4 separate regions of the Homo sapiens genome follow, and regions 1, 2 and 4 are each linked to region 3. Evidence: fine-mapped expression QTL. A gene starts in region 3. Each other region holds a variant in brackets. All regions are shown on one strand. Distances are from middle to middle.

Evidence for each region. PIP is the estimated chance that this variant, and not a neighbour inherited with it, causes the effect.
Region 1: its variant is the best candidate, but not a certain one, in a credible set for the expression of VSIG10 in lymphoblastoid cells (GTEx, PIP 0.77).
Region 2: its variant is the best candidate, but not a certain one, in a credible set for the expression of VSIG10 in prefrontal cortex (ROSMAP, PIP 0.61).
Region 4: its variant is the best candidate, but not a certain one, in a credible set for the expression of VSIG10 in whole blood (INTERVAL, PIP 0.57).

What each region holds. Positions count from the first base shown.
Region 1 is chr12:118,069,762-118,077,122 of GRCh38, forward strand. It overlaps VSIG10 (V-set and immunoglobulin domain containing 10), which reads right to left. Exons shown (of 9, transcript NM_019086.6): 5 at 3,938-4,231; 6 at 1,598-1,708; 7 at 1,291-1,306. LOC124903030 (a long non-coding RNA gene) reads left to right here. Exons shown (of 2, transcript XR_007063479.1): 2 at 6,413-7,361. Among named protein-coding and RNA genes, the nearest start is that of WSB2, 12 kb to the left of the region's middle. The variant T/C (reference allele first, on the strand shown) is at 3,846.
Region 2 is chr12:118,163,383-118,170,743 of GRCh38, forward strand. The region is part of intron 17 of TAOK3 (TAO kinase 3); the gene reads right to left. Among named protein-coding and RNA genes, the nearest start is that of PEBP1, 31 kb to the left of the region's middle. RefSeq lists a silencer at 3,514-3,563 and an enhancer at 3,804-3,913. The variant T/C (reference allele first, on the strand shown) is at 3,465.
Region 3 is chr12:118,100,538-118,107,898 of GRCh38, forward strand. It overlaps VSIG10 (V-set and immunoglobulin domain containing 10), which reads right to left and starts at 3,474. Exons shown (of 9, transcript NM_019086.6): 1 at 3,056-3,474. The coding sequence starts at 3,134. It overlaps LOC124903029 (a long non-coding RNA gene), which reads right to left and starts at 3,045. Exons shown (of 2, transcript XR_007063478.1): 1 at 2,452-3,045; 2 at 1,068-1,730. RefSeq lists a silencer at 3,318-3,567 and an enhancer at 5,209-5,924.
Region 4 is chr12:118,123,395-118,130,755 of GRCh38, forward strand. LOC101928274 (a long non-coding RNA gene) reads right to left here. Exons shown (of 4, transcript XR_945409.4): 2 at 3,087-3,276. Among named protein-coding and RNA genes, the nearest start is that of PEBP1, 9.0 kb to the right of the region's middle. RefSeq lists enhancers at 1-239, 2,650-2,944, 3,120-3,656. The variant T/C (reference allele first, on the strand shown) is at 3,939.

The sequences.
Region 1 (7,361 bases), 31 kb before region 3:
CCACAGGTCAGTCACCTGCCCGAGGAGCTGTGTTACATTGTCATTTAATCTTCACAAACCCCCTGGTGAAACAAATCAGGAGACTAAGGCTCAGAAAGGGTCAGGGATTTTCTATGGGTACAGGGCTTGGGAATGGCACAGCTGTCATTTGAACCCAGGTCCAATGGTCTCAGTGCCTTTTCCTACTACACCACACTGATGCCTCCAGTGAGAAATAAGCCCAGGGAATGACAGACTTACTAAGAATGGCCCTCCAATACAGGGCAGTAAAGGTAATGTTTTGCTACGAAAGATGGTCCCAGGTCAATAATATCCTGTCATTTTGAAGAGGTAAAGAACTGTTTTTCCATAGGATCATAGAGAAGAGTACTCTGCTCCCACCCAGAATCTCCTTAGGAAATGAAATACACAAGTTCCGTTTGGTTCCTTCGCCCCTACTGGGGTTTCCTTTTGGGAGGGGGTTCTGGGCATGCTCATAGTAGTCTTCCAAAACACTGTAAAACTGGCTGGGTGCAGTGGCTCGTGCCTGTAATCCCGGCACTTTGGGAGGCCGAGGCGGGCAGACCACTTGAGGCCAGGAGTTTGAGACTAGCCTGGGCAACATGGTGAAACCCTGTCTCTACTAAAAATACAAAAATTAGCCAGGCTTGATGGTGCGCACCTGTAATCCCAACTACTCGGAAGGCTGAGGCAGGAGAATGGCCTCAACCTGGGAGGTAGGGATTGCAGTGAGCTGAGACTGCACCACTGCACTCCAGCCTGAGCAAGAGAGAGAGATTCTGTCTCAAAAAAAAAAAAAAAAAGAAAAAAGAAAAAGAAAAAAAAACTTAAGACTATGACTGATTCTTTCTTTTAGCTCTTTTTAGAAAATTAAATAAAACAAATGCATGAATGACTGGCTCAAAATGTACACATTGTCTTTCTGTCTCAATGACAGACCTGCAATGTGTCCAGCCCTGAGGTTTGGCGCTGTAAAAGAACACAGACTTTGGAATTGATTAGACCTGGACCTGAAGGAAGGCACTGCTGCTTTCTTCTGGAATGAGCTTGCAGAAATTACTTCACTGAGCCTCCATCCCCTTATCTGGAAAATGGAGATGTCACCACCACCCTGAGGAGATGATGAAAGGGTTTATAAGAATACCTGATGAAATCCCTAGGCCAGTGTCTAGCACATCGTAGGTCCTCAATGGTAGTTGCTATTATTGTTCTTGTGAAAGGAAGGGAACAAAACAGAAGTGAAGACAGATGCGGGAATGGGTGTTTGGTTTGATTCTAGGGAACACTCACCTGGAAGTGTTTCCTACTGAAGAGAGAAAGGAAAAACCATTAATATCCAGTAACATCCACTTCAACCTGACAGGTTCTTAATCAGGCAAACATTTACTAGAGGAACAAATAAGAAAACTGACTCAATATGACAGGTGATAGGGTGTCCCGGGATGGTACTTAGGTGACTTATTACTGTGTATCTTGACCCAGCAAAGAAGCCCAGAGAACAGAACTTCAGGTGGGAGCAAGGCAGGGGCCATCCTTCCCCATCCCGCACCTTTTCAAAAGTCTGGAAGAGAAGCTAAAGGACCCAGGGAGTCCTTACCTTTCCAGCAGAACACAGGGCTATAATGCAACAGAAGCCCTGAGATAATGGCCAGTCCCAGCAGAAGGAGGCTCACAATGGTTCCCACAATCCCCCCGATATTTAAAGGTTCTGTAAAGACAAATCACACCATTGATTCTTCCATCAGATATGTGTGCAATTAGAACAACACCTCCCTTTCTCTGCGTGGATCCAGTTCTTGTCTTGATTCCTGACCTTGGGTAAGGCTTATGACCTGTCTGTAATGCCAGATAAATATTTTATCACCCAACCTCAGAGAGTTTGTGGGGATCAGATGGAGCAGGGAATGTGAACAAACAATGGAAAGTTAAAATCTCTCTGTCTACCAAACACTGAGACTATTTCTAAGGCCATGGTAAGTAAGAGTGTTGAGAGTTATCAATGCCATGATAAACAGAGTGATCAACGGAACAGAACAGAGAGTCCAGGAACGGGTCCACACGTAAGTATAATTGATATATGACAGGGTCTTGAGCAAAGGAAGCACTATTTAAGAATTGGTACTAGAGCCCGGGCGCAGTGGCGCATGCCTGTAATCCCAGCACTTTGGGAGGCTGAGGAGGGCGGATCACCTGAAGTCGGGAGATCGAGACCAGCCTGACCAACATGTTAAAACCCCGTCTCTACTAAAAATACAAAATTAGCCAGGTGTGGTGGTGCATGTCTGTAATCCCAGCTACTTGGGAGGCTGAGGCAGGAGAATCACTTGAACCCGGGAGGCGGGGGTTGCGGTGAGCCAAGATCGCGCCATTGCACTCCAGCCTGGGCAACAAGAGCGAAATTCCATCTCAAAGAAAGAAAGAGGGCCGGGCGCGGTGGCTCACGCCTGTAATCCCAGCACTTTGGGAGGCCGAGGCAGGCGGATCACGAGGTCAGGAGGTCGAGACCATCCTGGCTAACACAGTGAAACCCCATCTCTACTAAAAATACAAAAAATTAGCCGGGCACAGCGGCGGGCGCCTGCAGTCCCAGCTACTTGGGAGGCTGAGGCAGGAGAATGGCATGAACCCAGGAGGTGGAGCTTGCAGTGAGCCGAGATCGCACCACTGCACTCCAGCCTGGGTGACAGAGCAAGACTCCGTCTCAAAAAAAAAAAAGAAAGAAAGAGGAGGGGAGGGGAGGGAAAGAAAAGAAGGAAGGTAGGAAAGGGAAAAGGGAGAAGAGAAAGGAAAAGGGAGAAGGGAAGGGAAGAAAGAGGCCAGGTGTGGTGGCTCATGCTTGCAATCTCAACACTTTGGGAGGCTGAGATGGGAGGCTCACTTCAGGCCAGGAGTTCAAGACCAACCTGGTCAACACAGTGCGACCTCATCTGTATAAAAAATAAAATAAAAAGAAATAAGTAGAGACATATATAGTAAAACTTAAAATTCAGGACCATGGTTACCTTTCGAGAGAGGCCCAAGATGAGACTAGGCCTACAGGGAGGGTTCCCAGGTAAAATTCAGTATGCCCAGTGAAATTTGGATTTCAGATAAACAATGAATAGTTTTTTTAGTGTAAGTATGTCTCATGAAATATTTGGGACACACTTATACTTAAAAGTATTTATTTTTCTAAACTCAAATTTAAGCAGGCATCCTGTTTTTAAAGTTCTATTGCTATTTTCTTCTTTTTGAAGTGGATTCTCGCTCTGTCACCCAAGCTGAAGTGCAGTGGTGTGATCTCGGCTCACTGCAACCTTCGCCTCCCAGATTCAAGCAATTCTGCCTCAGACTTCCGAGTAGCTGGGATTACAGGCACCTGCCACCATGCTCAGCTAATGGTCTCGAACTCCCAACCTCAGGTGATCTGCCCATCTCAGCCTCCCAAGTAATTTTGTATTTTTAGTAAAGACGAGGTTTCACCATACTAGCCAGGCTGGTCTCAAACTCCTGGCCTCAAGTGATCCACCCGCCTCGGCCTCCCAAAGTGCTGGGATTACAGGCGTGAGCCACTGTGCCCAGCCCTATCGTTGTTTCCAAATCTGGCCCTGAGACATACAAGTAACCTAATGCATGTTGGTACTATTCTGTATCCTCAGTGGGATGATAGTTTCTTAGGTGTTCATTTTGCTGTTATGCTTTACAACTGACATACACTAGATATCTATTCGTTGGTGTGTATAGATATTATGTAATTTTTGCTACCTATGGAAATATTAGTGAGTTTAGGGTTGGATAATTTCTTCCAGCCACCTTGTCAAGTCATAAGCAAGCAGATATGCCTTCTCCCAGTTGGCAGTGACCCA[T/C]GTGTAGGGAGGCACCAGGCTGTCCTCATGCTGATGCTGGGTGCTCTGAAGCTCTGAACCCTCCCTCCTTCAGGCCCAGTTCCACCACTCACCTTTCACACTCAGCCAGATTTCCATCTCCCTCACCCCTACAGGGCTGTCAGCTCGGCAGATGTAGTAGCCCTCATCCAGGTCCTGGGAGCAGTTGTGGATAGTGAGGGTGGAGTTCTGGCCATCCTGGGTAATGAGATGGCGGCTGCTAGGCTGGATGATCACCTCGGGCTGGGTAAGGTTCCTCAGCCACAGGATCTTGGCAGGGGGGTAGGCCCCAGACACCTGGCATGTAAGCGTCACATTGCCCCCAGTGAAGCAAGTCTTCATGGGCTCAGAGAGAAGGGAGGGACCCCCTGGTGATCAGAAGGTAAACAAAGACAAATGTTTAAAGAGATTCAAGTCATGGCCTGAGATCTGCAGGAAAACTGCAGTAGTTTTTTGTTTTGTTTTGTTTTGTTTTGAGATGGAGGTTTTGCTCTGTTGCCCAGGCTGGAGTGCAGTGGTGCGATCTCAGCTCACTGCAACCTCTGCCTCCCTCCCGGGTTCAAGCAATTCTCCTGCCTCAGCCTCCCGAGCTGGGATTACAGGCATGCGCCACCACACCTGGCTAATTTTTGTATTTTTAGTAGAGACAGGGTTTCACCATGTTGCCCAGGCTGGTCTCAAACTCCCAACCTCAGGTGATTTGCCCATCTCAGTCTCCCAAAGTGCTGGGATTACAGGCGTGAGCCACCGCATCCGGCCCCAGTCCCCTTTATCTGTGATTTCACTTTCTGAGGTTTCAGTTACCATGGTTGACTACAGTCCAAAAATACTAAATGGAAAATTTCAGAAATGAACAATTTTTTTTTTTTTTTGAGATGGAGTCTCACTTTGTCGCCCAGGCTGGAGTGCAGTGATGCAATCTCAGCTCACTGCAATCTCCACCTCCTGAATTCAAGAGATTTTCCTGCCTCAGCCTCCCAAGTGGCTGGGATTACAGGCATGAGCCACCACGCCCACCTAATTTTTGTATTTTTAGTAGAGACGGGGTTTCACCATATTGGCCAGGCTAGTCTCAAACTCCTGACCTCAGGTGATCCACTTGCCTTAGCCTCCCAAAGTGCTAGGATTACAGGCGTGAGCCACCGTGCCGGGCCAATTCATAAATTTTTTATTTTTTCATTTCTTGCAGTACTTTTAAGTATATTCACAATTTCCTAAGTTTTAAACTGCACATTGTTCTGAGTCGTGTGACGAAATCTCACACCATCTGCATGAGCCTTTCTTCATCACAAGAAGGCTGAGTAGATATTTTGAGAGAAAGATCACATTCGCATACCTTTTATGACAGTATATTGTTATACTTGTCTATTTTTTATTAGTTACTATTGTTAATCTCTTATTGTGCCTAATGTATAAATTAACCTTATCATAAGTATTTATGTATAAGAAAAAGCATAGTATATATATGTATATATGTATATATGTGTATATGTATATATATGTGTATATATGTATATATGTGTATATGTATATATATGTATATATATGTATATATGTGTGTATATATATATGTGTGTGTGTGTATATATGTGTGTGTGTGTATATATATATATAGGGTTCAGTGCTACCCATGGCTTCAGGCATCCACTGGGGATCTAGGAACATATCCCTCATGGGTAAGGCAGGAACACTACATTTCCTTCCTAATGAAGCAACTCCAGAAATTTCTTTTTTTCTTTTTTTGTTTTTGAGACAAGGTCTCGCTCTGTCACCCAGGCTGGAGTGCAGTGCTGTGATCTTGGCTCACTGCAACCTCTGCCTCCCAGGTTCAAGTGATTCTCATGCTTCAGCCTCCCAAGTAGCTGGGATTACAGGTGCCTGCCACCATGCCTGGCTAATTTTTGTACTTTTAGTAGAAACAGGGTTTCACCATGTTGGTCAGGCTGGTCTTGAACTCCTGACCTCAAATGATCCTCCACCTTGGCCTCCCAAAGTGCTGGGATTACAGGCATGAGCCACCGTGCCTGGCCAACTCCAGAAATTTCTCCACCACACCTCGTCTTACATCATAATAAGCCTAAGATTACTAGGCATTTACTGTGGGCAAGGCACTGTTACATGTATTAACCCAATTCACTCTCACAGCAACCCTGTTATTATGCCCATTTTGCAGATAAGGAAACTGAGGCACAGAGAAAGTTAAGTAATTTGCTGAATGCTACAGAACTAAATAGGCAATGCAGCTAGGATTCAGAGTGATCAACTGCCCCAGTCTGCCCAGGACGTGGAGTATTCCCAGAATGAGGAGTTTTCAGTCCTAAAACCAGGAGAGTTCTGTGCAAACCAGGATAAACTGGCTACTGTATCCATAAGCCTTCCTTCTATGCTATACACTTTTACACATAAAAACTGTACTGATCGTATAAAAATGGACACATATCTGACAAGGATTTCAAGGGGACAAGAGGGCAGCTGTATTTGTTTCCAATTGCTGATGTAATAGATTGTGACAAACTTAGTGGCTTAAAGCACATTTATTCTCTTAACAGTTGTGGAGGCCAGGAGTCTAGAACGTCTTACAAGGTTAACATCAAGATGTTGGCAGAGCTGGTTCCTTTTGGACGCTCTAGAGCAAGCTTTTCCAACCTGCAGCTGCGGGCTAAATTCGGCCCAGGATGGCTTTGAATGTGAGGACATTTTTGTTTATCTGTGTGATGGATATCATGAAAATTATGCACGGTCCCTTTTTTTTTTTTTTGGCTCATCACCTATCGTTAGTGTTAGTGTTTGTGTGAAATACATTCCCATGATCAAATTACCTCCCACCAGGTCCCTCTGCCAATATTTGGAGTTACAATTCAACATGAGATTTGGGTGGGGACACAGAGCCAAACCATATCATGGTGTTTCGCTGTGTTGCCCAGGCTGGTCTCAAACTCCTGGGCCCAAGCAATATGCCCGTCCTTGGCCTCCCAAAGTGCTGGGATTACAGTCATGAGCTACCACATCTGACTGATCCTGGCGCTTCTGATCTCTCTTACCTTTCCCTTTTTTTTGTTTTGAGACAGAGTTTCACTCTGACACCCAGGCCTGGAGTGACCGCTCACTGCAGCCTCAACCTCCTAGGTACAAGCAATACTCTCACATCAGCCTCCCCAGTAGCTGGGATTATAGGTGCATACCACCATGCCCAGCTACTTTATTTATTTTTTATTGTTTGTAGAAACAAGGTCTGTGTTGCCCAGGCTGGTCTCGAATTCCTAGCCGTAAGCTATCCTCCTGCCTCTGACTCCCAAAGTGCTGGGATTACAGGCGTGAGCCACCACGCCCGGCCTTCTCCCTTCTTACAAAGAAAGACATCAGTCATTGGATTACAGCCTACTCTAATCCACTATGACCTTATCTTAACTTGATTCCATCTGCAAAGACTCTTTCTGAATAAAGTCATATCCACAGGTATTAGGGTTTGGACTTGAACATATCTACTGGGGGGACACA
Region 2 (7,361 bases), 63 kb after region 3:
GAAATAAATTTCAGTTAACATGCAAACAAAAAAATCTTAATTAATACAGGGACATACTTTTTTTTTGGGGGGGGTGGGGGTAGAGATGGGGTCTCACTATGTTGCCCAGGTTGGTCTCGGACTCCTGGACTCAAGTGATCCTCCCATCTCAACCTCCCAAAATGCTGTGATTATAGGCATGAGCCACCCCACCATGCCCAGCCAGGAAATAAGTTTTACGTCCAAATTAAAAAAAAAAAAAGAGAGAGAGCAATGTTGGATAAGTGATGAATGCTATAAAAGGGGTAAAGATTTTATGCTATAAGATTTCTGAAAAGGGTGGTATTATTATTACTATTATTTTGAGACAGAGTATTGCTCTTGTTGCCCAGTGCAATGGAGTGCAATGGTGTGACTTCGGCTCACAGCAACCTCCGCCTCCCAGGTTCAAGCAATTCTCCTGCCTCAACCTCCAGAGTAGCTTGGACTACAGGCACATGCCACCACGCCTGGCTAACTTTTGTATTTTTAGTAGAGATGGAGTTTCTCCATGTTGGTCAGGCTGGTCTCGAACTCCCGATCTCAGGTGATCTGCCCGCCTTGGCCTCTCAAAGTGGTAGGATTACAGGCGTGAGCCACCGTGCCCGACCTAGCAGTATTACTATTAAGAAGGTCAAGGAGCCTGGGGCGGTGGCTCACGCCTGCAATCCCAGCACTTTGGGAGGCCGAGGCGGGTGGATCACGAGGTCAGGAGATCGAGACCATCCTGGCTAACATGGTGAAACCCCGTCTCCACTTAAAAATACAAAAAAAAAATTAGCCGGGCCTGGTGGCGGGCACCTGTAGTCCCAGCTACTCGGAAGGCTGAGGCAGGAGAATGGCGTGAACCCGGGAGGCGTAGCTTGCAGGGAGCCAAGATCGCGCCACTGCACTCCAGCCTGGGGGACAGAGCGAGACTCCGTCTCAAAAAAAACAGAAAAACAACAACGAAACAAACAAACAAACAAAAGAACGTCAAGGAAAGGAGAAAGCTTTTGAGCTGTACTTTATTTATACTTATTTATTAAATTTTTGAGACGGAGTTTCTACTTTGTTGCCCAGGCTGGAGTGCAATGGTGCGATCTTGGCTTGCTGCAACCTCCGCCTCCAGGGTTCAAGCAATTCTCCCGCCTCAGCCTCCCGAGTAGCTGGGATTACAGGTGCCCACCACCACGCCTGGCTAATTTTTGTATTTTTAGTATAGATGGGGTTTCACCATGTTGGCCAGGCTGTTCTCAAACTCCTGACCGCAGGTGATCCACCCGCCTCGGCCTTTCAAAGTGCTGGGACTACAGGCGTGAGCCACCATGCCCCAGCCTCAGCTGTACTTTAAATTAGAACAATAGAGGGCCTCTCTTCTCTGATGGCATCCACTATAGGAGAAAATGCAAATTATTTATTTTAATAGATATCATCGATAACATTTTTATACTGGCGTGGTTGGAAATATCTTGCACACTTGGGCTCCCTATTGATTGAAGAGAAATCCTTTTAATAGCACAGCATCTAGTACTAGAGTACAGTCACTAATCATTCACTTATTCATTCAACAAGTAGTTATTGAGCACCTACTATGTGCTGGGCACTGTTGTAGGAACTAGGGATAGAACAGTGAACATGTACACCCCCTCAGCGACCTTATAAGGAGAAAAAACCCAAAGTATAAATACAATTTAAATTTGTTTTAAGGAATAAAAAATAAGCCCTTAGAGTTATCTCTCTCATCTCCTCCCGTGTTTTCCTTTGTTTTATTTTTCTTCTTTACCTAGACCATCAAATTTCTTTTTTACAAAGCAGTAACTGGCCCGTAGGTGGCACCAAAGGATGGAGAGCCCTTCCCACAGACGAAAGCTCTCCCAGGCCAAGGAAAGCCCTTTAAATGAGGACTTTAATTGAGGTCCAGGAGTCCCAACACCAGGCATTTATTCATCCCACACTTTCCTAAATTGAGAAATGCAAACTGAGCCTGAGTTGCTAAGAGCCCTGAAACTCATGGGCTCTTGACACAAAGCAAAACACACAAAGCAAGCAAACACCTTCAGAAGAAATCAAGTGCTTCTCTTCCTGCTTAATGAAATGCTTCAAGATACTGTCCACAGAATACCTACATCCGAATTACCTGTGTTATAAGGGACTAGTCTCTATAACAAGCTACGCAGCTAATTCTGATATATATGAAAGTTTGAGAATCAATGGAAAAGTGCTAAGGGTGTGAGTCAGTTTCAGCTCCTCTATAAGTCTTATGTATGGCTTGGGGCAAGTCTCTTAATCTGTATTTCAGGTGTAAAATGAGGATAGCAGTACACATTGTGAACTATCGTAGTTGTAAAGATAAAATGAAAGACCATAAGAAAGTGCTTCAGAATACATAAATGTCATTATTTTTCTCTATTCAGAAGGGAATACATGGCATATAATATCTTAAATCTAGTTTTTATAAACTATTAGAAGAGTAAGAAAAACATGATACTGAAATGGCTTTTCTGTTACAAGTTGTTCCCTTCACCTTTAATTTGTACATCTGAGTTGCTGAGGTGTAAGATGGTAAGCTACCTTTAATATTTGAGACATGGGGGAAAAATTATTCACCTTATTATGAGGCCAGTGCTGTGCCTACATAATAATGTTTAATGTGCTTTCCATTTTTAAAAGTTATTCCATACATCTCATTCAATCCAAATTGCCACCCTATGAGGTGATAAGACTGTAAGGATTTCCCCCTTTTATATGTGTTAGTAGGCATTTGGGAGTTGAAGGACTAACATAAAGTTACACAACTTCTATAAAGAGAACTGAGGCTAAAACTCAGGTATTTAGCTTCTCAGCATTTTCCATTAGAAATGTTCCAATAAATGAGGCCAGACGCGGTGGCTCATGCCTATAATCCCAGCACTTTGGGAGGCTGAGACAGGTGGATCAGCTGAGGTCAGGAGTTCGAGATCAGCCTGGCCAACGTGGTTAAACCCTGTCTCTACCAAAAATACAAAATTAGCCAGGTGTGGTGGCACATGCCTGTAATCCCAGCTACTTGGGAGGCTGAGGCAGGAGAATCACTTGAACTCGGGAGGCGGAGGTTGCAGTGAGCTGAGACTGCGCCATTGCATTCCAGCCTGGGCAACAAGAGCGAAACTCCGTCTCAAAAAAAAAAAAAAAAAGTTCTAATAAATGGCATACTTTCCTGTTTTATACTTTTTCAGTCTGTGATAAAATATTTTGAAGAATTCTGCTCTAGCTAGACATGATACAATGGTTACTTTATTTGTACAAATGACACAATATACACACTAGAGCCACATCATGTGCACCTTTAGCTTATACAAATTTAACAAAATGAGCTGAGCAAAAACTAAAAAATCAGTTTTAATGGTACAGATCATTCTGCCCACCCATGTACTCAATGTATGTGTGTGTGTGTATATATATATATACACACACACACACACACA[T/C]ACACACACACACACACACACACACGTATAAGCCCTGGAGGGAGTGTGGGATAAGATACATGCAGCTTCCTTTCCCTCGGTCAATGTCCAGTGTGTTTCAAGCACTCTAACTTCTAATGGAAGTAGTATTGACTTCTTTAAAAGCAGCGGATTTCACTCATGCCAAATTTTTATGCTCAGGCTCACTGAGGTTGAGTAAAAACGAGAATTCTAACTTTTAAATAGAGATGCTGTCAGCCTATGACATTTAATGCCTTCTTAGTTTCAGTTCTTAGTTTCAACACTGGTCAGAAAATGCTGAGTGTCTGTGTGTGTTGGTGATAGAGAAAGAGGCTCAACCCAGTTTCAGTGATCTTCTTGTTTTCACTAATTAAAAGGATTGCTAATACTCAATCCTTTAGGCAAAGACACAGGAAACCAGGCATTCTTGTGCTTTGTTGGTGGGAGTATAAACTCCTTTAGAGAGCAATTTAGTGATATTTATTTTAAAAATTTAGATGTATGCATTCTTTGACCCAGGAATTCCACTTCCGAAAATGTATCCCCCAAAATACTTGTTTACATGTAAAAATATCTATGTACAACAATGTTCTTATATTATTAATAATACTGTAAAACTTCAACAAAATGTCCACCGAGAAGTGTCTCATTAAATAAATGATATTGAGGCCATACAACAAAATACTATTAGATGAAAAAGAATGAAGCAGAGCTGTACGTGCTGGAAGGTAAATGGAAAAAAGAGTTACAAAACAGTGGAGTGGACATCTGTTACTTTTTGTAAGGCTCAGCTTCCATTTTTCCTGCTTCTCTTTATAGGCTCTTTTTTTTTTTTTTCCTTTTTTTGCAAAATGACTCCCCCTTATCTGGAATCAGAGAGAGTGTTGAATAAGGCATAAGCACATGACCCAATCAAGTTATATCTCTCCTAGGAATTTTAATCTCGAACAGAAACGATACAAAGACAAAAAGTGGTTGGAGGAGGTACACTGAAATGGCAGTGCCTGGAGAACTGCACATGAGCCCTTGCTCTCTGTGTCATGGAAGTTGCTTTACCAGCGTGGCTCTTCATGTTTTCCCGCTCAGTTCTTCAGCTCTTTACCTACCTCATATCCTTCCAATAAATTCCTTTTCAGCCTTAAGTCAGCCAGAGTTTATTTCTATTGCTTGCAAATCAAATAATCCTACTGATACAAAAGTAATCTCATTTTTGTAAAGTCATATATAATATAGCTGTACATATGTATATAGAAAAAAACCTAGAAATATACATGCCAAATTAATGGAGACTGTTTGAGGGTAGAGATTGGGTGGAATGGGATTGTCGAAAAGGTGAAGATGGGCTGATGCTGGTCAAATGGTAGAAAGTTCCAGTTATGCAAGACGAATAATTACTGGAGCTCTAATGCACTCACTGCATGGTGATGATAGTTAACAATGTTGTATTACATGCTTGTAATTTGCTAAGAGGACAAGTCCTAAATTAAATCTCCCTACTCAACCCCATGCACACATGCACACAAATGTAACTATGCGGAGGTAATGGATATGTTAGTTAGCTTTCATGTGGTGATTATTTCACAATGTATACATATATCAAAACATCAAGTTGTATACCGTAAATACATACAATTTTTATATGTTGATATCTCAATAAAACTGTTAAAAAGAACTTTCACTACTTAGCTTTATGTGTTTCTGTTTTCGTCTATTTTCAATGTTCTTGAGTTACTTTTGTAAATAAAAAAGCTTTGAACATTTTCATGAAGGTGGGCTCTGGAATAAGACTAAACAAAAGAAAATCTAGACTTTTAAGAAAAATACTCTTACAGAGTTATTTTTTGCTCAACTGGCTAGAACCTAATACTAATGAAGTCACCAATATAGTTTCTATCATTTTTAGGGAGTAATTATCTTCTGTAACTTTTATTGACATGAATTGTCCCCTTAGCCTCAGACTTCCTCCAAATATCTATTATTAGAATAACAATAAATGTTACATGAAAAGACTCCCAAATGACTTATTTCCAACTGGCCATTAGCCTTTTTCATTTTGATTTTTTGACTTCTGACAAACTCAAAATGTGCAGTACTGAATCAGCTTGCTTGCTTTCCTTCCTTCCTTCCTTCCTTCCTTCCTTCCTTCCTTCCTTCCTTTCTTTCTTTCTTTCTTTCTATTTTTTTGAGACAGAGTTTCACTCTTGTTGCCCAGGCTGGAGTGGAATGGCGCGATCTCGGCTCACTGCAACCTCTGCCTCCCAGGTTCAAGTGATTCTCCCTCCTCAGCCTCCCAAGTAGCTGGGATTACAGGCACCCACCACCACACTTGGCTAATTTTTGTATTTTTAGTAGAGACAGAGTTTCACCATGTTGGCCAGGCTGGTCTCGAACTCCTGACCTCAGGTGACCCACCTGCCTTGGCCTCCCAAAGTGCTGGGATTACAGGCGTGAGCCACCACGCCCACCCCCACCCCCCCCCCTTTTTTTTTAAAGACAGTCTCACTCTGTCATCCAGGTTGGAACGCAATGGCATGATCTCAGCTTACTGCAAGCTCTGCCTCCTGGGTTCAAGCCATCCTCCCACCTCAGCCTCCCGAGTAGCTGGGATTACAGGCGCCCACCACCACGCCTGGCTAATTTTTGTAGTACAGATGGGGTTTCACCATGTTGGCCAGGCTGGTCTCGAACTCCTGACCTCAAGTGATCCGCCTGCCTGAGCCTCCCAAAGTGCTGGGATTATAGGTATGAGCCAGCATGCCCGGCCTGAGTCAGCTTCTTACCAAAACCTCTCTTTAATCTCTTCTCTGTTTCTACCACATCTTCATTTCCCCTAGTGTTAAGCCCTAGAAATAATTTTGATTCCATCATCTTTTCTCTCATATCTTTTTTTTTGAGACGGAGTCTCCCTCTGTCACCCAGTCTGGAGTGCAGTGGCGCAATCTCTGCTCACTGCAAGCTCCGCCTCCCGGGTTCACGCCATTCTCCTGCCTCAGCCTCCCGAGTAGCTGGGACTACAGATGCCTGCCACTGCGCCCAGCCAATTTTTTTGAATTTTTAGTAGAGACGGGGTTTCACCATGTTAGCCAGGATGGTCTCCATCTCCCGACCTCGTGATCCGCCCGCCTCGGCTTCCCAAAGTGCTGGGATTACAGGAGTGAGCCACTGCGCCCGGCCTCTCTCGTATCTTAGTATATGTCAAGTCCTGTTTACTTTAAACTTCAAATGGTGTTTTGAATCTACTGCTCTGACAGCCACTACCACCAGCCTTGTCCATATCCTATTTCCTGCTACTAGTCTCTTCTCTCTAATCCTGTGTTTCTCAAGCAGTTTTTTTTTTCATCATTGCCCCTATAAGGAGGCTTTCTAGGCTTTTTCTCCCTTAATTATCCCCATCACTGAAATATTAATACCACAGGTAAACTGTGTATCTGTTTATGCACTGTGGTCCTTTGAAGCTGTAATAAGACCTAGGTCACCGCACCCCAACAGGAACCCACTTTCACCCACTGGGGGCGTTATCACCCCCATTGAGAATCTATGTTCAAATCATTCTGTGTATTACTGTCAATCTGGGCTAATCTCTTTAAAGTACAATTTTAGCCATATCACTGCCCTTCTCAAAAATGTTTAGCAGGCTGGATGTGGTGGCTCATGCCTGTAATCTCCACACTTTGGGAGGCTGAGGCAGGCAGGTCACTTGAGCTCAAGAGTTTGAGACCAACCTGGACAACATGGTAAAACCCCCACCTCTACTAAAAATATAAAAATTAACCGGGCGTGGTGGTGTGTGCCCGTAATCCCAGCTACCTGGGGGGCTGAAGTGGGAGGATCGCTTGAACCTAGGAGGTGGAGGTTGCAGTGAGCTGAGGTTGCGCCACTGTACTCCAGCCTGGGCAA
Region 3 (7,361 bases):
ACTTTTTTTTTGAGATGAAGTCTCGCTCTGTTGCCTAGGCTGGAGTGCAAGGCGTAATTTCGGCTCACTGCAACCTCTGCCTTTGGGTTCAAGCAATTCTCCCGCCTCAGTCTTCTGAGTAGCTGGGATTACAGGCACCCGCCATCATGCCCCGCTAAGTTTTTGTATTTTTGTAGAGACAGGGTTTCACTGTGTTGGCCAGGCTGGTCTTGAACTCCTGACCTCAGGTGATCTGCCCACTTCGGCCTCCAAAAGTGCTGGGATTACAGGCGGGAGCCACCGCACCCAGCCAAGAATTATTTTTAAATTATTAGGATTGGGAACCCAAATTATCCAGTGGCAACCGCCACAATGGAAAGGAAGATGAACTTCAGAGTTACAGATGCAACATGTGTTCATGCAACCTGCAGACCTGCCCCTTGCCTAACTCCTTGGCAAAGAAATAAAGGAACAGTGGCTTGGAAAAAAGCCGTGGTGAAACTTTAGTCTTGGAACTTGAGCTAACATTGTTTTCTCCTCCAAGGCATAGAATGACATGATCACAAAAGAAACCATTTGAAGACATTTCACTTCTCCTGGTTTGGCTTACTCCGTTCTTTTTTAAACCACTGTATCTGAAGGTGCCCTTGGAGATCATCTAGTCCAGAGATGTGGCTGCCCTGTGGGCTGGGTTGAAGATGAGATTGAGTCCTGGTTCAGTGGAAAAGAACACAGTCATCGATTTAGTGATGTCTGACATAGACATGGAAGGGGTAGTTCTTGCCTGGCAGTCCTAAACCTCCTCACTTTACTACTGAGAAAATTGAGATTTAGGAAGATTAAGTTATCACTTAAAGTCCCAAGCAAATCACTGGGAGATGTGGGATTGTCACTCAGGTCACGTTACTCTGGTCTCCTGCACCAGACAGGATGCAATGATAAAATATAGTAACAAGTTTAGAAGTCATTCATATGGTGTCCAGAGGGTCCTTCTTGCCCCCCAACCTTAAATGTACAATAGAGAACCGAAGAGGGAGTAATATAAACTCCCTGATGCTGCCCATGTATTATTATTTACAGAGTAGGAGTTATACCCAAACATTTATTTATTTTTTTAAAGCAACTTTTCCCAAGAATAACCTAGGATTTACAATCCGGGGTAGCTAGTGGATGCATATAAGTTGTCTGGCATTGAATGTCAGGAGAAAAATTTTTTTCCCCAAAAACTCCCAACTTAAAAAACAAACACACAACAAAAATACACCAAGCTCAGGAAGCCCCCTGGCATCATACACAAAGGTGAAGCAGGTCTGGGCATCAAAATAGCTGGGCAAAGGCCCAACACGGTGGCTCACACCCATAATCCCAACACTTTGGGAGGCCGAGACAGGAGGATCGCTTGGGTCCAGGAGTTTAAGACCAGCCTGGGCTCAAGCGATTGTAGAGACCGTCTCTACAAAAAAATTTTAGAAATTAGCTAGGCGTGGTGGTGCACGCCTGTAGTCCCAGCTACTTGTAGGCTGAGGTGGGAGGATCAGTGCAGTGATTGCACCACTGCACTCCAGCCTGGGCAACAGAGCGAGAGCCTGGCTCGAAAAAAATAGCTGGCCATAGCAGTGGAGATAGGTTCCCCATGGGGCGGGTGGCAGTCAGCCTGAAAGCCAGGTCATTCCAGCAGGATGACTTCATCCCAGGGTTCTTCTCACTTCCCAGGTTCCTGGTGTTCATCGTGCAGGAAACACTGCAAACAGCTGGGGAGATGGGAATACTTGACAACCACCTTTCACGTCCAGAGATGACCAACTAGGAACTGTCCTCCCCCATCACCCACACCCCAGCACAGTGATTACTCAGCCAAATGCCTGCAGGGCCAGCAGGTAACACCCATGACTGAAGGTGGCGGGGCAAATATTACAACAGGGAGAGGTGGAACAAATTTGGGCTCATATGCCCTAGATAAGAGGATGACCACTGCCCAATTCCAACTGGGAAAGCAGGCCCCGTGTTGCCAGACCTTCAGATTTTTCCAGATAAACTGGAAATCTAGAGATGTTATTGTTTTTAAATGGTTGGTTAAAAAAAAAAAAGCAAAATAAAATTGTATGAGCCTAATAATTAGGAACTCTTGGCACTTGCTGCTAAGAAGCTCCAGCATACTTTACAACCCATCTCCAGAAACGTGCAAGAGGAGACCCGTTGGGTGGAGCAGACCCGGGAACACAAAAAGTAGCGCTCTGCCTGCATCCTGGCAAACTTCACCACCTCCTGGCTCCATCTCCTCTCCCTGCACCCCAGCCTCCTCCCAGCTTGTCACACTCCCAGCACACAGTAGGCATGCACAGTAGGCATGCTGGTGAATTAAATTCAAATATATATAAATAGTTCAATCTTTTTACATTCTACATATTTTTGTAAGCACCCCTCCAATTCTTTTTTCGTAGCAAAGCAGACCATAGATGAAGCATTTCAGACCTTTTGTCAATCATGTCAAGTGTGAGGGGAAGTCTTTTGTAAGTCAGCCAAGTATTTCAAAATAAAAAGCTTTTCCAAAAGTAAAGGCGGAAGACCCCGCTTTGAAGGCGCTGGTCGGCACAGGAAGACTTGCAAAGGTGTGTAGGGAAGTCCACCGGTTACAGGTGTAAGGCGAGTTCAACCTTGGGCAGAGGGAGGAGAAAAATAAAGTGGGAGTCTCGAGTTTGAGCACCAGCGTATCAGTTACTACTAAAACCAGAACGCGAATTTACATCCGACGCTTAAAAAAAAAAATCACTTTCCCGGCACACGTGCCTCTTTACTTTGCCCCCGCACGTCGGCTCGGCTCGGCTCCTCTGCAGCCTCACCGGCTGCCCACCCCAGGAGGCTGGGGGTATCTCGCCCCGCACCGGGCGCCCGGGAAAACTCCTTCCTGCAAAGACGGCCGAGCTGCGAGCAGGAAACCAAGACCCTCCTGGGGCAGCTTCTAGGCTGGGGCCACCACGGATCCGGGCGGAGTCGGAGGGAATTGGGTCTCTCGCTGTCCCCTCCCCACCGCTGACTGGGAAAACTCAACTTTTCCCTCCAGATCGCGGCCCCTTACCTACGGCGACCCAGCCGGCCAGGAGCGCCCCGAGGCAGACGAGGACGCGGGGCTCGGGCGCACTGCCGCCTGCGGCCATCTCGCCCCAGATCCCGGCTCAGGAAACGCAGGCTCGGGCTGGGCTGGACGTGTGTGCCCCAGGGCCCCGGGGCCCGGGGTACCGAGGGCTCCTCCCAGGTCCTCGGAACGGCAGAGTGGCCCCACTTCCTCGGCCCCCAGGAAGGATGCTTGGCTGAGCCGAGTGTCCAGGGCCGGCAGCGGAGCTCGGCTGCAGGCTCGGGTCCCCGCTCCCGAGCGCCCTGGCCGGGGAGGGAGGGCGCACCCCGCCCCCTGCGCCCGCCAGCCTACTCCTGCCGGCGGAAAACAACAGGAGCGGGATCCCTCCCGCCTCCCAGCCAGGCGGGAGCCCAACTTCCTCTACCTTGGCCCGGGAGGAGGGCTTTCTGCCGAGGGCGCGCCGAGCCGGGTCCCGCCGGGCCAGGGGCGGGGCGCGGAGGCTGGGCCCTCCCCAGTCCACTCCGCCCGGGACAGCAGTACCGAGTCGCGGGGACAGCGGGCGGGACGGAGCCCTGCAGCTGCCGCAGGACGCAACCCCCGCCGCTGCCCCGGGCTGCAGAACCCGGAGGAAGCGGTTGCCAAGCTGCAGAACGCAGGACCCCCCTGGCAGTCCCCGCTGAGCGTCTCGAGGGATTCCGGTCTGTGTCCCTGGGCGCAGGGCGGGCGCCAAGGCCGCCATCGCTTCCTTTCCTTACCCTCTGCAAAAGGGAGCCAGAGAAAGATGATCCCCTGACTTTCAGCCAAAGCAGCCACGAGACTCCGGTTCTCCAGTGAACTGGCTGGGACCACACAGTGACAGCGAGAGCCAAGGAGTCCCCAGGACGTGTTTCTCAAGAGTTTTGTTTTTGCTTTTCCCCTTTTAGTTCTCCCACCCCTTACCCAGTCAGATTCCCAGGCTAAGCTCCTCTCTTCCCTGCCATGCCCTCATCCCATTCTGTCCTGGGGAAAATGCGGCTTTGATATCCTCAGGAAGAGCCATCCATAAAACAGCCCTAGGAGAAACTTCCTGTTTCAAATAATAATAATATGGCAGGGCGTGGTGGCTCACACCTGTAATCCCAGCACTTTGGGAGGCCGAGGTGGGCGGATCACAAGGTCAGGAGTTCGAGACCAGCCTGACCAACATGGTGAAACCCTGTCTCTACTAAAAATACAACAATTAGCCGGGCATGATGGCGGGCGCCTGTAATCCCAGCTACTGGGTAGGCTGAGGCAGGAGAATCGCTTGAACCCAGCAGGCGGAGGTTGCAGTGAGCCGATATCACGCCATTGCACTCCAGCCTGGGCGACTGAGCGAGACTCCATCTCAAAATAAATATTAACGTTAAAAAAAAATCATTAGTTCTGTTGTTCAACGGTCCCCTTATTGAAATGCTTCTTCCATGAGGAAATCCTCTTGAAACCACTTTAAAAAAAAAATGTTTCTCCTGGTGAACTGAGCAATGAAGCTGAACAGTTCTGCCTTTTTTACTTTTCTGTTTTTTATTTTTTTGAGACAGGGTGTCACTCCAGTTGCCCAGGCTAGAGTGCAGTAGCACAATCATACCTCGCTGCAGCCTCAAACTACCAGGCTCAAGTGATCCTCCCACCTCAGCCTCCCGAGTAGCTGGGACTACAGGTGTGCAGCACCACGCCCAGCTAATTTTTGTAATTTTAGTAAAGACAGCGTTTCTCCATGTTACCCAGGCTGGTCTCGAACTCCTGACCTCAAGTGATCCACCCGCCTTGGCCTGCCAAAGTGTTGGGATTACAGGTGCGAGCCACCGCGCTCAGCCCTTTTTTATTCTTTGCTCAAATATTTTTAAATAACTGTTCATCAGCCGGGCACGTTGGCTCATGCCTGTAATCCCAGCACTTTGGGAGGCCGAGGCAGGTGGATCACCTGAGGTAAGGAGTTCGAGAGTAGCCTGGCCAACATGGTGAAACTTCGTCTCTACTAAAAATACAAAAATTAGCCCGGTGTGGTGGCAGGCGCCTGTAATCCCAGCTACTTGGGAGGCTGAGGCAGGAGAATCGCTTGAACCCAGGAGGTGGAGGTTGCAGTGAGCCGAGATCGCGCCATTGCACTCCAGCCTGGGGAGAAGAGCGAGACTTCGTCTCAAAAAAAATAAATAAATAAAAAATAAAATAAAATAACTGTTCATCAGATTCTTGACAGGAATTTTGTTTGTTTGTTTTTTGAGACGGAGTCTCGCTCTGTCGCTGCAAGCTCCGCCTCCCAGGCTCATGCCATTCTCCTGCCTCAGCCTCCCAAGTAGCTGGGACTACAGGCTCCTGCCACCACGCCCGGATAATTTTTGTATTTTTAGTGGAGACGGGGTTTCACCGTGTTAGTGTGGGGAAAAGCAAGAGAGATCAGATTGTTACTGTGTCTGTGTAGAAAGAAGTAGACATGGGAGACTCCATTTTGTTATGTACTAAGAAAAATTCTTCTGCCTTGAGATTCTGTGACCTTACCCCCAACCCCGTGCTCTCTGAAACATGTGCTGTGTCAAACTCAGGGTTAAATGGATTAAGGGCGGTGCAAGATGTGCTTTGTTAAACAGATGCTTGAAGGCAGCATGCTCCTTAAGAGTCATCACCACTCCCTAATCTCAAGTACCCAGGGACACAAACACTGCGGAAGGCCGCAGGGACCTCTGCCTAGGAAAGCCAGGTATTGTCCAAGGTTTCTCCCCATGTGATAGTCTGAAATATGGCCTTGTGGGAAGGGAAAGACCTGACTGCCCCCAGCCCGACACCCGTAAAGGGTCTGTGCTGAGGAGGATTAATATAAGAGGAAGGCATGCCTCTTGCAGTTGAGACAAGAGGAAGGCATCTGTCTCCTGCCCCTCCCTGGGCAATGGAATGTCTCGGTATAAAACCCGATTGTACGTTCCATCTACTGAGATAGGGAAAAACCGCCTTAGGGCTGGAGGTGGGACCTGCGGGCAGCAATACTGCTTTGTAAAGCATTGAGATGTTTATGTGTATGCATATCTAAAAGCACAGCACTTAATCCTTTACCTTGTCTATGATGCATAGACCTTTGTTCACGTGTTTGTCTGCTGACCCTCTCCCCACAATTGTCTTGTGACCCTGACACATCCCCCTCTCGGAGAAACACCCACGAATGATCAATAAATACTAAGGGAACTCAGAGGCTGGCGGGATCCTCCATATGCTGAACGCTGGTTCCCCGGGTCCCCTTATTTCTTTCTCTATACTTTGTCTCTGTGTCTTTTTCTTTTCCAAGTCTCTCGTTCCACCTTACGAGAAACACCCACAGGTGTGGAGGGGCAACCCACCCCTTCAGTTAGCCAGGATGGTCTCGATCTCCTGACCTCGTGATCCACCTGCCTCGGCTTCCCAAAGTGCTGGGATTACACGCGTGAGCCACCACACCCGGCCTGGAATTTTTTTTTTTTTTTTTTTTTAGACAGAGTCTCCCTATATCATCCAGGCTGAAGTGCAGTGGTGTAATCATACCTCACTGCAGCCTCAACCTCCTAGGCTTAAGTCAATCCTCCCAGAGTGCTGGAATTACAGGCATGAGCCACTGCACCCAACTTGGTTCTTGCTTTTCATGTTTGACCTTGTGGAGATCCTATACTAACCAGACCTGTTTCCTGTATCCTCAGTACCTGCCAGCTAGTTGCCATTCTAATATACATTTGTTGAGTAAACAAATGAGAATTGATTAGTTTTGATATTGTAGTTCCTCAGCTTTTCTGGCAAACACCTTACATCCTCACCTGCAATAAACAAGCGGTAAATAAAATCAGTAACTGGGCCAGGCAAGGTGGCTCATGCCTATAATCCCAGCACTCAGGAAAGCCAAGGTGGGCAGATCCCTTGAGGTCAGGAGTTCGAGACCAGCCTAGCCAACACAGTGAAACCCCATCTCTACTAAAAATAAAAAATTAGCTGGGCATGGTGGCGCATGCTCGTAATCCCAGCTACTTGAAAGGCTGAGGCAGGAGGGTTGCTGGAACCTGGGAGGTGGAGGTTGTAGTGAGCTGAGATTGTGCCACTGCACTCCAGCCTGGACAACACAGAGAGACACTGCTCAAAATAAATAAATAAATAAATAAATAAATAAATAAATAAATAAATATTTTTAATTAAAAAAATAAAACCAATAACTGGCCAGTTTTCAGCAGAGGGCCTGGAATTCTCCATGGCCTCATGGTGGCTTGCCCAGGGCGGCCTTCCTGACATATTGGCGAGGTCGATGCATAGTTCTAATCTCACTGGACCCTCCCTGCAA
Region 4 (7,361 bases), 23 kb after region 3:
ATACCACAGTTAACTATTTGTTTTTTATTCTTTCAGATATGCATTTATGTACATATGCATTATATGGACACATTAACATAAATATATTTAAAGACATAGATAAGGTCACACACTACATGTTGTTGTTTTTTGAGCCTCTCTCTGTCACCCAGACTGGAGTGCAGTGGCGTGATCTTGGCTTACTGCAACCTCCACCTCCTAGGCTCAAGTGACCCTCTTACCTCAGCCTCTGGAGTAGCTGGGACCACAGGTGAGGGCCACCACACCTGGCTAAATTTTGCATTTTTTGTACAAATGGGGTTTCGCCATGTTGCTCAGCTGGTCTCAAACTCCTGGGTTCAAGCAATCTGCCCGCCTTGGCCTCCCAAAGTGCTGGGATTAAAGATGTGAGCCACTTTGCCAGGCATGTATGTATGTGTATGAGTGTGTGTATATATGTGTGTGTATATATATATATATATATACACACACACACACACATACATATATATTTGTTTGTTTGTTTTGTTTTGTTTGAGACAGAGTTTCACTCTTGTTGCCCAGGCTGGAGTGCAATGGCATGATCTGGGCTCACCGCAACCTCCACCTCCCTGGTTCAAGCGATTCTCCTGACTCAGCCTCTCCAGTACCTGGGATTACAGGCATGCGCCACCACGCCCGGCTAATTTTGTATTATTAGTAGACATGGGGTTTCTCCATGTTGGTCAGGCTGGTCTCGAACTCCTGACCTCAGGTAATCCACCCACCTGGGCCTCCCAAAGTGCTGAGATTACAGGTGTGAGCCACCACGACCGGCCCACCTCAGCCTCTTGAATAGCTGAAACAACAGGCACCCTGCCACCCCACCAGCTAATTTTTGAATTTTTTCTTCTTTTTTTTTTTGTCATGGAGTCTAGCTCTATTGCCTAGGCTGGAGTGCAGTGGCATGATCTCGGCTCACTGCAACCTCCACCTCCCAGGTCCAAGCAATTCTCCCGCCTCAGCCTCCTGAGTAGCTGGGATTCCAGGTGTGTGTCACCATGTGCGGCTTTTTTGTATTTTTAGTAGATACAGGGTTTCACCATGTTGGCCAGGCTGGTCTCAAATTCCTACCCTCAAATGATCCACCTGCCTTGGCTTCCCAATGTGCTGGGATTACAGGTGTGAGCCATGGTGCCCAGTCATATTTCTGTATATGTGACATTTGCCCTTCTAGAACTTTGATCCAACTCTAGGGAATTGGCTTGGCAACCCTTTTTAATCTAATCTCTTTGTTTACTTACCTTGAACTTTTGGTCAAATGTTCACTACAGATAAACATGACTAAGTCAAAACAGTTGGAGAAGTAGAAATAAATTCCAGGTTGATGTGTTTTAATGAATACAGTTTCTTAATTTCCGGAGCTTGCGGAAAATTCCGGAGCTTGCAGAAACTCATAACATTTTGATAAGTAGAGATGGAGTCTGTTTTAATTAAGTGGCCAGTATCATACATAATTAATATTAGCTGTGTACACACGCAAGGGGCTTACTCACCTGCTACTTAGATGCTGCTCTCTTAGGCTGATTAACAAGCTCTTTGCATTGGTGTGTGCATCACTCATTTGCTACTTGCAGAAGACATCTTTTGCCTTTACGTTTCCTACCTGTATTTCTTTTTCTTTTCTTTCTTTCTTTTTTTTTTTTGAGACAAAATCTCACTCTGTCACCCAGGGAGTCTAGCTCTGTCTCCCCGGCTGGAGTGCAGTGGCACGATCTCAGCTCACTGCAACCTCTGCCTCCTGGGTTTAAGCAATTCTCCTGCCTCAGCCTCCTGAGTAGCTGGGATTACAGGCACCTGCTACCACGCTCACCTTTTTTTTTTTTTTTGTATTTTTAGTAGAGACGGGGTTTCACTATGTTGGCCAGGATGGTCTTGATCTCCTGACTTCGTGATCCACCCGCCTCAGCCTCCCAAAATGCTGGGATTACAGGGGTGAGCCACCACACCCAGCTGTAATTTTGTATTTTTAGTAGAGATGGGATTTCTCCATGTTGGTCAGGCTGGTCTGGAACTCCTGACCTCAGGTGATCTGCCTGCCTCGGCCTCTCAAAGTGCTGGGATTACAGGCGTGAGCCACCACACCCGGCCTTTATTATCTTATAATTTCTATAGATCAGGGGTTTGGGGATACCAGACCTGGGTCTTCCGCTGACCCAGGGTCTCGCAAGGTTTCAATAAGGTCTCAGCCAGGTCTCGGGTCTCATTGTCAAAACCTTAGTCAAGCTGGGAGGGCAAGCTGAGGTGTCAGGTGTCCAAATAGCCAATTAAGCAATAAGCCATTGGCCAGGTGTATTGGGCTCATACCTGTAATCCAAGCGCTTTGAGAGGCCAAGGCAGGAGGATCACTTGAGCCCAGGAGTTTGAGACCGGCCTCGACAACATAGTGAGACTCTGTCTCTCCAAAAAAAAAAAAAAAAAAAAAAAAAAAACAATAAAAAAATTAGCAGGGCATGGTGGTGCACACCTGTAGTCCTAGCTACTCAAGAGGTCGAGGTGGGAGGATCACTTGAGCCCACATGGTTGAGGCTGCAGTGAACCATGATTGCACCACTGCACTCCAGCTTGGGTGACAAAGCGAGGCCCTGTCTCAAAAAATAAAAAAAATAATAAAAAAGATAGAAAGCAATAAGCCAAAAATGAAAGAGGAAAGGCTTTATCACTTGACTGTGATGGTATAAGGGCTAAGAGTGGAAAAGTACTAGGTATGAAATCAGGGTAGGAAACAGTGGGTTCAAGGTTTCCCGCTCCCATCCCTAGAAGGGGGCCTTGGCAGAAGCCCCATAGAAGACCTCTGCCCAAGGCCCCAGATAAAGAGACCTAGGATCAAAGGTGCTGCCTGGCTAGGAATGCAAATGTGTTCAAGAGCATGGCCGGCCAGGGCCACTGGAGTCTCTGACTCCAGTTCCCTTCAGACACTGCAGTGCATAGGCTGGGCACCCAGTGTGGTGTGGGGAGGGCAGCTTTCCCCGAGGCCGGCCAGGGAAAGCCTTCATCATTGCCCACAGTCAGGCAGGCCTGAAGAATCTCACCTAGGTTTTCAGCCAGGACTCGTACTCCCCACTCACCTGAAAGCCGGGCTTTCGGGGGAAGGATCCACTTCCAAGGTCACTCACTGGTTGCTGGCAAAATTCAGTTCCTGGAGGGGTGTTGGGCTACGGTCTCAGGTCCTCGCTGGCTGTTGGCCAGAAGCCGCCCTTGGTTCCTTGCCACCTGGGCCTCTGCCACACGATGGCTTGCTTCCCAGAGGCCTGCAAGCTGAGAAAGTAATGGAGAGCGCGTGCTAGCAAGATGGAAGCCACAGCCTTATTTATGTATTTATTTATTTATTTTTTTTTTTTTGAGACGGAGTCTTGCTCTGTCGCCCAGGCTGGACTGCAGTGGCGCGATCTCGGCTCACTGCAAGCTCCGCCTCCCGGGTTCACGCCATTCTCCTGCCTCAGCCTCCCGAGTAGCTGGGACTACAGGCGCCCGCTACCACGCCCGGCTAATTGTTTGTATTTTTAGTAGAGACGGGGTTTCACCGTGTTAGCCACGATGGTCTCCATCTCCTGACCTCGTGATCTGCCCGCCTCGGCCTCCCAAAGTGGTGGGATTACAGGCGTGAGCCACCGCGCCCAGCCCACCACAGCCTTATACAACGGAATCGGAAGTGACATCCTGTCCGCACGTCATATGTTGTTTGAGATAGGGTCTTGCTCTGTCGCCCAGGCTGGGGCGCAGTGGTGTGATGATGGTTCACTGTAGCCCTGAACTCTTAGGCTCAAGCCATCCTCCAGCCTCAGCCTCCTCAGTAGTTGGGACTACAGGTGTGCCACCACACCTGGCTAATTTTTTAATTTTTGGGGGAGATGGGGGTCTTACCATGTTGCCCAGGCTGGTCTTGAGCTCCTGGGCTTAAGCAATCCTCCTGCCTCGGC[T/C]TCCCAAAGTGCTAGGATTATAGGCGTGAGCTGCTGCACCTGACCCAGCCTTACATAACTTAATCAGAAGTGACATCCCGTTTACATGTTATGTTATTGATTAGAAGCAAGTTACTCAAGGGGAGGGGAGCACACGGGGCCATGAATACCAGGACGTGGGGTTCACTGGGTCCATCTTAGAAACTGTCTACCAGAATGGTTATCTGGAAACATGAAGGAGGAGTCTACTTGAAATTGAAACCACCCCACAGGTGGAAACACAGGAGGGAGACAGATACCTAAGGTATTAGGTAAGTCCCTGGATCCAGACACTCCTGAAGCCAATCACCCACCAGCATCTCAGTACATGAACAAATTACTTTTCTTCTTCTTCTTCTTCTTTTTATTTTTTTATTTTTTGAGACTGAGTCTCGCTCTTGTTGCCCAGGCTGGAGTGCAGTGGTGCGATACCAGCTCACTGCAACCTCCGCTTCCCGGGTTCAAGCAGTTCTCCTGACTCAGCCTCCAAAATAGCTGGGATTACACGTGCCCACCACCGGGCCTGGCTAATTTTTGTATTTTTAGTAGACAGGGTTTCACCATGATGACCAAGCTGGTCTCAAACTCCTGACCTCGGGTGATCCACCCGTCTCAGCCTCCCAAAGTGCTGAGGTTACAGGCATGAGCCACTGCACCTGGCCTTCTTCTTTTAAAATACCAGTTTGTCCAGGCGCAGTGGCTCATGCCTGCAATGCCAGCACTTTGAGAGGCCAAGGCAGGAGATCACTTGAGCTCAGGAATGTGAGACCATTAAGAGCCTTGTGGGGCTGGGACTACAGGCCCATGCTACTAGGCCCAGCTAATTTTTTTTTGTATTTTGTGTAGAGACAGGGTCTCACTATGTTGCTCAGGCTGGTCTCAAACTCCAGAGCTCAAGCGATCCTCCTACCTTGGCCTTACAAAGAGCTGGGATTACAGGTGTGAGCCACCATGCCCGGCCCTACAAAGCTTTTGATGGCCCCTCTGTAGTCTCTAAGTATCACCTCCATTCTATATTAGCTCCTACCATTCACAACAGCTGTTTCTCCTTAGGCACTAGTGCTGATTAAAAAGTCGAATCTGACAATGCCATCCACATCAAGCTACCAATGACTTTCTTCACAGAATTGGAAAAAACTACTTTAAAGTTCATATGGAACCAAAAAAGAGCCTGCATTGCCAAGACAATCTTAAGCAAAAAGAACAAAGCTGGAGGCATCACGCTACCTGACTTCAAACTATACTACAAGGCTACAGTAACCAAAACAGCATGGTACTGGTACCAAAACAGAGATATAGACCAATGGAACAGAACAGAGCCCTCAGAAATAACACCACACATCTACAACCATCTGATCTTTGACAAACCTATCAAAAACAAGAAATGGGGAAAGGATTTCCTATTTAATAAATGGTGCTGGGAAAACTGGCTAACCATATGTAGAAAGCTGAAACTGGATCCCTTCCTTACACCTCATACAAAAATTAATTCAAGATGGATTAAAGACTTAAATGTTAGACCTAAAACCATAAAAACCCTAGAAGAAAACTTAGGCAATACCATTCAGGACATAGGCATGGGCAAGGACTTCATGTCTAAAACACCAAAAGCAATGGCAACAAAAGCCAAAATAGAAAAATGGGATCTAATTAAAGAGCTTCTGCACAGCAAAAGAAACTACCATCAGAGTGAACAGGCAACCTACAGAATGGGAGAAAATTTTTGCCATCTACCCATCTGACAAAGGGCTAATATCCAGAATCTACAAAGAACTTAAACAAATTTACAAAACAAATCAAACAACCCCATCAAAAAGTGGGCAAAAGATATGAACAGACACTTCTCAAAAGAAGACATCTATGCAACCAACAGACACATGAAAAAATGCTCATCATCACTGGCCATCAGAGAAATGCAAATCAAAACCACAATGAGATACCATCTCACACCAGTTAGAATGGCGATCATTAAAAAGTCAGGAAACAACAGGTGCTGGAGAGGATGTGGAAAAATAGGAACACTTTTACACCGTTGGTTCAACCATTGTGGAAGACAGTGTGGCGATTCCTCAAGGATCTAGAACTAGAAATACCATTTGACCCAGCGATCCCATTACTGGGTATATACCCAAAGGATTATAAATCATGCCAGTATAAAGACACATGCACATGTATGTTTATTGCGGCACTATTCACAATAGCAAAGACTTGGAACCAACCCAAATGGCCATCAATGATAAACTGGATTAAGAAAATGTGGCACATATACACCATGGAATACTATGCAGCCATAAAAAAGCATGAGTTCATGTCCTTTGGGATGAAGCTGGAAACCATCATTCTGAGCAAACTGTCGAAGGACAGAAAACCAAACACCGAATGTTCTCACTCATAGGTGGGAATTGAACAATGAGAACACTTGGACACAGGGTGGGGAATATCACACACTGGGGCCTGTCGTGGGGTTGGGGGAGGGATAGCATTAGGCGAAATACCTAATGTAAATGATGAGTTAATGGGTGCAGCACACCAACATGACACATGTATACATATGTAATAAACCTGCACATTGTGCACATGTACCTTAGAACTTAAAGTATAATAAAAATAAATAAATAAAGCTTAAAAAAAAGGTACACCCACTTTGGAGAAATGTTTGACAGTTTCTTACAAAATTAAACACCATATAATCCAGTAATCCTACTCCTGGATATTTACCCAAGAGAAATTAAGATACATGTCCACAAAAAGATATACTAGAATGTTTACAGGAGTTTATTCATAGTAGTAAAAAAACTGGAAACAGCCCAAAGTTCATCAACAGATAAAAGGATAAACTGTGATTTTAAAAAAAATAAGTGGCCGGGCGCAGTGGTTCATGCCTGTAATCCCAGCACTTTAGGAGGCCGAGGTGAACGGATCACCTGAGGTCGGGAGTTCGAGACCAGCCTGACCAACATGGAGAAACCTCATCTCTACTAAAAATACAAAATTAGCCGGGCATGGTGGTGCATGCCTGTAATCCCAGCTGCTTGGGAGGCTAAGGCAGGAGAATCGCTTGAACCCGGGAGGCGGAGGTTGTGGTGCGCCGAGATTGTGCCATTGCACTCCAGCCTGGGCAACAAGAATGAAACTGTGTCTCAAAAAACAAAACAAACAAACAAAAATAGTCAACTCTGATTGGTCCAGGTCATGCTGTTGAGTCAGGCCATTTCATAGGTGGTTTGAGAAGCCTTTGAATTGGATGAAGGTGGGAGGGGTGTCAGTGGAAGGGCCCCTGAGGATGTCCTAGGGGCTGTGGGCATGGCAGGTATTCTGCAGCTTGTCTTGTTTAAGACACAAAGCAAGCCATTCTTCACAAAGATTGTCATGATTCTGGTTTGAATGATCACTAATTTTATTTTT